Regions from separate parts of the Homo sapiens genome. Here region 2 is linked to region 1. Evidence: fine-mapped expression QTL. A gene starts in region 1. The other region holds a variant in brackets. All regions are shown on one strand. Distances are between the middles of the regions.

Region 1 (4,390 bases):
AATCTGGGTGAGACAGAAATAATGCAGGGTGTTCACAGGAGAATAAAAACTCCAGACAGCAGTTTCCCATGAGTAGGGGTTATGGGCTGATGAACCCCTGAAAAACAGGGTGTGCACCAAGCTGGCTAAGACCAACTAGACCCAAAGTGGTGCTGGATTTGACCTAGGTTTCACCTAGGACCTCATTATATGCTCATTAACACACTAAATCACACCCACCAGCGCAATGACAGTTCTGGGAACACCCATATTTGGTGTAAAAACGAGTGGCACCACAGTTCCAAGAAATCTCCATCTTTTTCCAAGAATTGTCATAAATATTCCACCCCTTGGTTGAAGAAACCCATACAGAGAGAAACCGCACACCCCACTGTGTGACTCTCTTGAGTACGCCCGCAATCCCCTTTCTTAAGTGTGTACTTTTTCCCTTTGCAACAAATCTCCATACTTTCACTATTTTCCAACTCATCCTTGAATCCATTCTCAAGACGGTGTCAAGAGTCTGGACACCTGCGGGGGTCCAGGACCCACCGGCATTTGAGGACCTCCCCTGGCCCACTGATATCATGGGGACTGTTATTCTTCCCTCAGACGTAGATGCCTTTTTCTGTAAAGACTTAAGCCTGTATGTATGAGACAGAAGTTTGGCAGGACTGATTTCACAAGATAGAGGTCACAAAGACCCCCACTGATAAAACAGATGCAGTAAAGAGGGTGGCCCAAACCCACCAAAACCAAGAGGGCACCCCATAGGGGGCCACTCAGCGTTCCCTTTCCTGGCACACCAGGGTTGGAAAAACCACTCCAGGCAAAGAACCCGGATCAAGATTGAGACTGAAATCCACTAGTGGATGACCTCTGGTCATCCTCACTGCTCATTACAGGCTAATTATAATGATTTAGCTGCCGAAAGACACTCCCCCTGAGTGCCATGACGGTTTACAAATGCTATGGCAACCCGGGGAACTTATTACCCTACATGGTCTAAAAGGAGGAGGAACCCTCAGTTCCAGAAAATCCCCAGGGCCTTCTTGTAAAACTCATGAATAATCCATCCTCTATCTAGCATATGATCAAGAAATAACGGTAAAAATAGCCCATCTGCAGCCCTCCAGGCTGCTCTGCCTGTGGAGTAGCCACTCTTATTCCTTTACTTTCTTAATAAACTTGCTCTCATTTTACTCTATGGGGCTGCTCTCGAATTCCTTCCTGCTCCAAGCCAGGTGGCCTCTGTGGCTGTACCCTAGTTTTGGGGTTTTCCCTGCAACATATAGTTTGGAGCTGTTAAGCAATATCTATTGGGTGGCATTCTAGGACTTGAATACGGCTTGATCAAAGGCGAAGGGGTTTGATTTCTTTGCCTTGCAATATCTAATAAAAATCTCTTGGGGCGGAGAGGTAAAAAAAAACTGGTCGGCGCACACTGGATTGCAATTGCACACCAGTAGCTTTCTTAGCATGGCTTGAGTAAATTTTTGCATCATCCAGAACTGTGGTCACATAGGGGAAGGCAAACTCCAACATGTGATTTATACGTCTTGGCTCATATTCTTTGATCCCCACGACCCTCAGGACCTGCGCCATCCTCGGGGGATGCCTCAGGGCACATCTTCCTGGGGAGAAGCCCTGATCAGAGTTGCGGGGCTTTGTCACCTACATTAATGGATTCCAGTCCCGATCTTGATGCAAGTTCTTTGCTTACTGTGGTTTTTCTAACCCTTGGTGTACCTCGAAACAGAAATGAGCGGCCCCACAAGCGGTACCCCCTGCCCTGAGCTCTGGGCCCCTGGTCTGCCCCACGGCCCATCCCCTCCTGGGGAGCAGATGTTCCTAAATAATCGTTGAATAAATTAAAGAATGTTGAATTGAATGTGGCAATTACATGAGTTAGCAACATTTCTAAATATCTTTTTTTTCCCTCGGCTAAAGATGATTGTTCCTTAAGCTACGCATTTGTCTTTACAGTGTTTCAAGGCCTCATAAACCTATAATAAAATTGACGTCATAATCACGACACATTCAACACAGATGTGAGCGTTTGGAGAGAGCTTCAGCCTTCAGCACAGGCAACTGTGTTCTATTCACCGGGCTGTGCTCCTCGGAAGGGCTGGTGGTTCCTGTAAAAGTTTGTGCTCCCCGCGCCTTTCCTTCCTTCCCTCGTCTTTGGCGCCTGCGGGCACCGGGAGTCCTGGGAGAGGGAGGAGGAACGGCGAATCGGCGGGGCGTGTCCTTCACGCCGCCCCGTAGCTCGGGGCCGAAGCTGGCGCAGCGCGCGACTTTTTGAAAGCCAGGAGGGTTCGAATTGCAACGGCAGCTGCCGGGCGTATGTGTTGGTGCTAGAGGCAGCTGCAGGGTCTCGCTGGGGGCCGCTCGGGACCAATTTTGAAGAGGTACTTGGCCACGACTTATTTTCACCTCCGACCTTTCCTTCCAGGCGGTGAGACTCTGGTAAGAGGAGCTTTTTTTTTGCGAGCCCTGGCGGGGGCCGAGCCCGGAGCCGAGGCCTCTGCGGGGGCTTTCGTGACAGGGGAGGATCTGGTTACAGCCAAAGAAGGATTTTGGCAGCCAGCCCCTTGTGAGCCCCTGGATTGGGGTAAACAGTCTGACCTCCACCCCCGAACCCTGCTGAGCGTGTGAGATGCAGAGGACCTGAGAGTCATGCGGCCCACACTTTCTCTTTGCTTCCCCTTGGAGTTTCTACATCTACTTTGTTTCTCTTTTCTCCTTTACTTTTTCTCTCATTCTTTTAATTTTCCGTTTTCTGCTGCCCGTCCGCGTCGTAGCTTTGTCAGTAGTGTCCAGGTATTTGTTGAGTCCCAGGGTCCCAGGCTTAGGGCCCAAAGGTCACTGACGTTTGACCCGGTAAATCTGTAGATTAGCTTGCTTGAGCGCTGCTCACTTTAATGCTGCCTCTTAAACAGTACTTGATTGTTAAAAATATCTTACGTATTCCACAGAGTATGAAATTCTGCTCACGGTCATCCTACTGCCATTTCTAATTTATCTTCATCTAAATATTCACTGTTTTTTTTGCTGTCATCTTCATGAGAACCTTGTGATTTAGAATTAGTATGGTTATTTAACAATTAATGTTAAGAATGCATATACAATACATAACATAATCTGAAGCAGAGTCTGGGCTACTGGCCAAAAGCTATCTGTCAGCAGTTAATGCCTAAACCTGAGTGTGCAGTCTGGAAAAAAGTGGCCCTCAGACAACTGTGAAATGGATAGGACATGGTACATTGAGGTGCAAATAGCTTAGAGTAGAAGGTGGGACTCAGTCGTAAGAGAACATAATGAAATGTTACGACTTCTGTTTAAACCTAGTTGTTTTTAGAGATAGGTTTTCTTTTTTAAAACGTGCTGCTTCTGAATATCAAATCCTCCGTAGAGTGAGCGGGAAAAGGCAGTGAGACTCATAAGGCTCATCATAAGATTTCCAGGACACTCTACGCGCCAGGGTTTTCTGCATCCTACTTTGTTGGCACCTCCTTGGTTGCTTTGTTTTTCATTTCTCATGCTTGGATGCCCTAGGGCTCACCCCTCTTCTCTCTACAGTTACTCCCTAGATGATCTTACCTAGTCTCTTGGCTTTAATAACGTCTGCGTGCTGCCATCCCACAAACTTAAATCTTCAGCTTGCATTCTAGATCCGTATCCACCCACCTATTTGACTCCTCCACAAAACTCTCCAACAGCTTTCTGTTTCTCAGTACAAGCTGAAATCTTGACTGTGACTACAGTTGAGTAGAAGTCACAGTCCTGTGGCTACAATGCTCTACTTGACTTGCCAGTCCCTACCCTCAGCCTCCCTGACTTTGTCTCATTCTCCCCCTTGCTAGCTCGCCTCTTCGTGAAGATTTCTGCCTCAGGTCTTTGTATTTCTTGTCCTCTCTCTGGAAGACTTTCACTAGATACTTGCTTGGGCCTGCTCCCTCACTTCCTTCAAATGAGTTTCTCAAGGAGACCTTTCTTGACCACTTTAAACTCAAATATTAAGCCCCTTCCCAAGGCCTTCTGCTCCCTTCACTGATATATATTTCCCCTGAAATAGTATATGTTTATCTTCATACTTGTTTGGGTCTTGTTTGCTGCTCTATTTCCAGAGTGTAGAACAGTGCACTGTTAGAGCACATGGTATGTGCTCGAACAGTGCACTGTTAGAGCACATTGTATGTGCTCAGTGTGTGCATATTGACTGAGTGAATGAAGAGTAGCTTCACATAGGTAGATAGAAATCTTAGAAGAAGCTGGATGTGGTGGCTCACGCCTGTAATCCCAGCACTCTGGGAGGCCAAGGCGGGTGGATCACCTAAGGTCACGTTTGAGGCCAGCCTGACCAATATGGTGAAACCCCATCTCTACTAAATACAAAAAATTAGCCGGG
Region 2 (4,390 bases), 47 kb before region 1:
TCTGCCCACAGAAACCCAAACCTCTTAAATGATGACGTCCTTCTCAGGCTAGAGGGTAGTCACTGTTGGAGGGCGTTGGTGATTCCCCAAGTGTGTTGCTGGAGGTGGCCTCATTGCTCAGCTCTGGGAAAGGCTCCTGCCTGCCTGCCTCCCCTATACCTCTTCAGGGGTAAAGGAGGCCAGAGACACAAGTTTCTGAATTTAGACTCTGAGTTCCTGAATCAGGGCAGCCTACATCATAAGCAAGTCAGACCTCAGCCTGTGGTTTCCCAGAGAGGTGGTAACAGAGCTGAGATTTTGTTGGGTGGGGAGAAAAGGATGCAAAATCCACAGCTTAGGGCCATGCTCTGTGAAGTGGAGCTACAACAAAATGTGGCCTCTGATTTGGGTGAGTCCAGGGGAGAAGGTGTGGCTTTCAGATTTGTGTTGACCCTGCTGGGGCAGGCAGCATCTGTTGACCCTGTGGGCAGGCGGCCCTCCACCATGGGGGGAAGCCCTGAGTCTAGGGGATCTGGGGACAGGTGGTGAGGAACAGGCCTCCATGCTTAATGAACCGACACTGGGGTCTGGGTGGAGTGGTGCCTTGTGCAGCCTCGCCCAGGTGCTCTCTAGTTCTTTTTCTCCCTTGAGGGCACTTTTCAGTTCCTGAGATCAATGTGGTCCCTACTGGGGAGACCATAGGAGCCCTGCAGGCCATGACTTTGCTCAATGCATGGTAAGCATGGGCCATGGGCCAGAGACATCCTTGAAATTGATGCTTTGCATCCCGTGATTATGGTTATCATATGTTTTCAATTTTTTGAAGGTGTCTTGTTTCCAAATATTCTTCTATCACTTCTATATACATTGAAACCTCTTGGGAATTTCAGTATTTCAGCATCCAAATGACATTTTCCAGACTTCCCATTGCACCCACCATGATCATCTGACAGCCATGTCCCCATTCTCTCACTTGAGATGTACGGTCATTGTAACAGCCTGAGCTCTGGGTCCAGAATCCAGAGTCATCTCAAGTAGAGAAGGCAGCAAGTATGTGATTAGAAGTGTTGTGATGTAATAAAGAGGATGCTGGAGATTTGGGGCCCTGATGTTGGATTCTCCATTCAGGTTGCCACCAAAGCCCTGGACTCTGGGGAGCCATGCCCTCCAGCCAGCACCTGCCCATCTGGGTCCATATTAATGAGTCCCTCCATTCATGCATGCCTTCCCTTTGCACAGGCTGGGTATCTCAGTGCACCGGGCCCTGTACCAGGTCACGTGATCCTCAGAAGGCTCACAGTGTCCTAAGAGAGTAAATAGCAATAGCAATTATGACACAAAGCTATAAGCATGTACCTAGAAGGGGCCCTGTTGGGTGTGGGGACCAGGGAAGGAGAAGAGGCATCTAAGCTGAGATCTAAAAGACAAGGAAAGCTTAGGCCAGAGTACAGAAAGGAGTTTTCTGAGGTGGGGGAGTCCACGTCCTTCCTCAGCTCATTCAGGTCTCCACTCAAGGCCTTCCTTCTCTACTCGTCCAAAATGGCACCTGCTCTCACTCCCCACCCTCTTCCTTGTTCACTTGTCCAAGACAGTACCTGCCCTCTCATTCCCTCCCTTGTCCACCTGTCCAAGATGGTGCCTGCCCTCTCTCTCATTTCCTTCCTTGTCCACTCGGCCAAGATGGTGTCTGCCCTCTCTCTCATTTCCTTCCTTGTCCACCCGGCCAAGATGGTGCCTGCCCTGTCTCTCATTTCCTCCCTCCTCCACTTGTCCAAGATGGCGCCTGCCCTCACTCTCCACTCCTTTGTTCACTTGCCCACAATAGTGCCTGCCTCACTCTGTACTCCCTGTGCTTCTGTTCCCATCTATGCTCTTATCACCGCTTGGCTATAATTATGGTTTTGTTTTTGTTGACTAGCTGTATTGCTAGACTCTCCCTAGAATGTCAGCTCCATGAGGGCAGGGACTCTGTTTGTGGGTGTATCCACAGCTGTCTGATAGACTCTCAGTCACTTACTTGGCTAAACGAGTAGGTGCACAAAGTGAGTTCAGGCTGGCCAGAACAGAGAGGCTAAGTCAGGGAGTCTCCGACCGTCTACCTTGGCTGCCTAGTCACACCCAGTCACACTCTTCCTGTTGTTTTGACCCCACACCTGACTTCTGCCTGGCCTGCTCTGTGACTCACAGCACCCTCCTGCCACTTCTTGCCCTACTTGCTGACCCCACACTGTGGCTTCTGTTGCAGGCCTCCTGGTGCAGCCAGAGGTGAGGCAGGTCTGTGAGAAACCAGGGCTGACAGCCTGGCCTCAGCCAACCCAGGGC[C/A]AAGGCCCCGCGCAGCGGCCGGGTCCCTCTTGGTGCTGCTGGCTGCAGGTTAGCCTGTCCTTACTGCTCCCGGGGAGTTTCTTGGTGTCAGACCCAGCCTCTGAATTCCAGCTCTTCTCCATGTTTTTCTTCTCCAGGATCTCTCTGTTGTCTTGCATAGCCTCAGCCTGTTTGGGGACAGCCTGAATGAGTTTGTATTTGCAGTCTGTGTGGGGAGAACGGTCACCTGGCCAGGGATGAAGGATCCGCAGCAAATACATCCAATATCGAGAGGAGGCATCCCTGGTGCTCTCGCTGTAGTCTTTAGCATCATTCCTGGGGTTGGGGTCGCTTCCTGGTGGCTTCCTCGGTTCCTCTGCAGAATTTTCTGGGGTTTTCTTGGCCCAGGCATGTGGCCAGTTCTGAGTTCTCTCCTTTCTCATGGGGCACAGATGTCAATTCTGCCATCTCCTTCGGGACCTATGAAAGTCTTTGCCAAGTCACAGTCATTAAAAGGAGGCTCCTTCCAGCCCACTTGGCCAAATACAAGATAAAGGAAAAACAAAAGTCCAGGAGTGCCGCGCTTATTAGTAGCAGGGCTTGAGTAGGTTTGTTATTTTCTCTGGCAGTTCACATGGGCATTTTCCTGCATTGTGTCACCCACTTGTCACTGGGTTCCAGTACAATGTCCACCCCTACCCCACATGACACCAGTGGATTCTGGCTTTAAAAAGAGATGACCCTGATTTCTTCTCTGGCCTTGGATTACTGAGGGTTGGAGCTAGAAGGAACCTTGCTGATTGACCCTCTAATCTAAATGCCAGTCCACAGCCCACAAACCAATTGTTCTGAATTATTTGGGACACTTGGAAAAATAGAGATCCCTCACTCTTGCCACCAAGATTCTCTTTCAGTAGGTCTGGATTGGCCGTGGAATCTGGTGTTCCTAATGATTTTGATAAGACCCACTGACCACTCCAGTATCTTATCAAGTGAGGATGCTCAGGTCCCAGCAGGGGAAATAGCCCCCAAGAGTAGTGGGGCGGGCAGGATGGTGAAAAGGATGTGGGAAGACACATAAGGAAACGCAAGCTGTGATCCCAGCTCTGGCACTGACCATGTGTTTCACCCTGAGACTATGACTTCCCAGCCAAACCCTGGCTTTGTGATGATCCAAAGGCTTCTTTCAGTTGCTCTGGTGTTCTTTGGGTCCCCAACATTTCCCCTTGGAGAACCAATGCATTGTAATGCTCAGGAATGGCTCTCTACTACATTCTGCAAACATTGATTTTTCATTTCCTCCAGCCAGGCTGTGTGCCAAGCACTGAGTTTAGAGATCAATGTGACAGGGGCTCAGCCCTCAGAGAAGGGGGAACAGACCCACATTGCTGATGTTTCCATGGGCCAGGATTGTGCCCCAGAGCCCTTTTAGCTTTGTTGCATTTTGTTTGCATGACAGTCCTGCAGTGTAGATGTTGTTCCCATGTCGCAGTTGGGGAAATGCCTTTAGAGAGGTTGTGAGGCTACCTTAAGGTCATTCAGGTCGAAAGGGCCTATTATGTGCCAGGTGCTATTCTGAGTTCTTCACATCTATTACCATGTTTCATTGATTCTGTGACACACATTTATATGTCTGTGAAATCAGGAAGCACCTGGCACTTGATATAATTTGCCACCTACCCAGCAGAGATTTTTCCTTCTTAGTGGCATATAAAACAGGCGCCCATTACAACAGGTGGCATCTCAGATTTGATGAACCAATGTGTCTCACAGTTGCAGATAGTAAGTGGCAGAACCAGAATTCCCAACTGGCTCTCTCTGGCTTAAAGCACTTTCACACTCACAGCCTAGTGGGAAAGTGAACATGAATGACCAAATCAGGGCTGAGACACTTCCCGGGACACAGCCATGCTACCTGCCCACAAAGTCTTAACCATCCTTGGCTTCCTATTTCTCCTACACCCTCCTCCCTAGCAGGCAAGGCTGCTGGTCACCGGGTCTCAAACAGTGGAGAGAAATCTGGTAATCACACTCCTTGATATTTACCCAAATGAGCTGAAACTGACATCCACATGAAAACCTGCACATGGATATTTATAGCAGCTTTATT

Alleles and levels. Positions count from the first base shown, and alleles are read on the strand shown. Sizes are in standard deviations (SD) of each study's normalised expression.
With allele C in place of A in region 2, the expression in fibroblasts of the gene that starts at base 2,283 in region 1 is lower (small effect, 0.15 SD a copy in GTEx).

What was found. PIP is the estimated chance that this variant, and not a neighbour inherited with it, causes the effect.
Region 2: its variant is the best candidate, but not a certain one, in a credible set for the expression of PBK in fibroblasts (GTEx, PIP 0.61).

Annotation. Positions count from the first base shown.
Region 1 is chr8:27,835,710-27,840,099 of GRCh38, reverse strand. PBK (PDZ binding kinase) reads left to right here and starts at 2,283. Exons shown (of 8, transcript NM_018492.4): 1 at 2,283-2,448. It also overlaps the pseudogene LOC100130612. RefSeq lists enhancers at 1,994-2,043, 2,114-2,173.
Region 2 is chr8:27,882,336-27,886,725 of GRCh38, reverse strand. All of the region lies in intron 7 of SCARA5 (scavenger receptor class A member 5), which reads left to right. It overlaps MIR4287 (microRNA 4287), which reads left to right and starts at 610; the gene lies at 610-687. The variant C/A (reference allele first, on the strand shown) is at 2,302.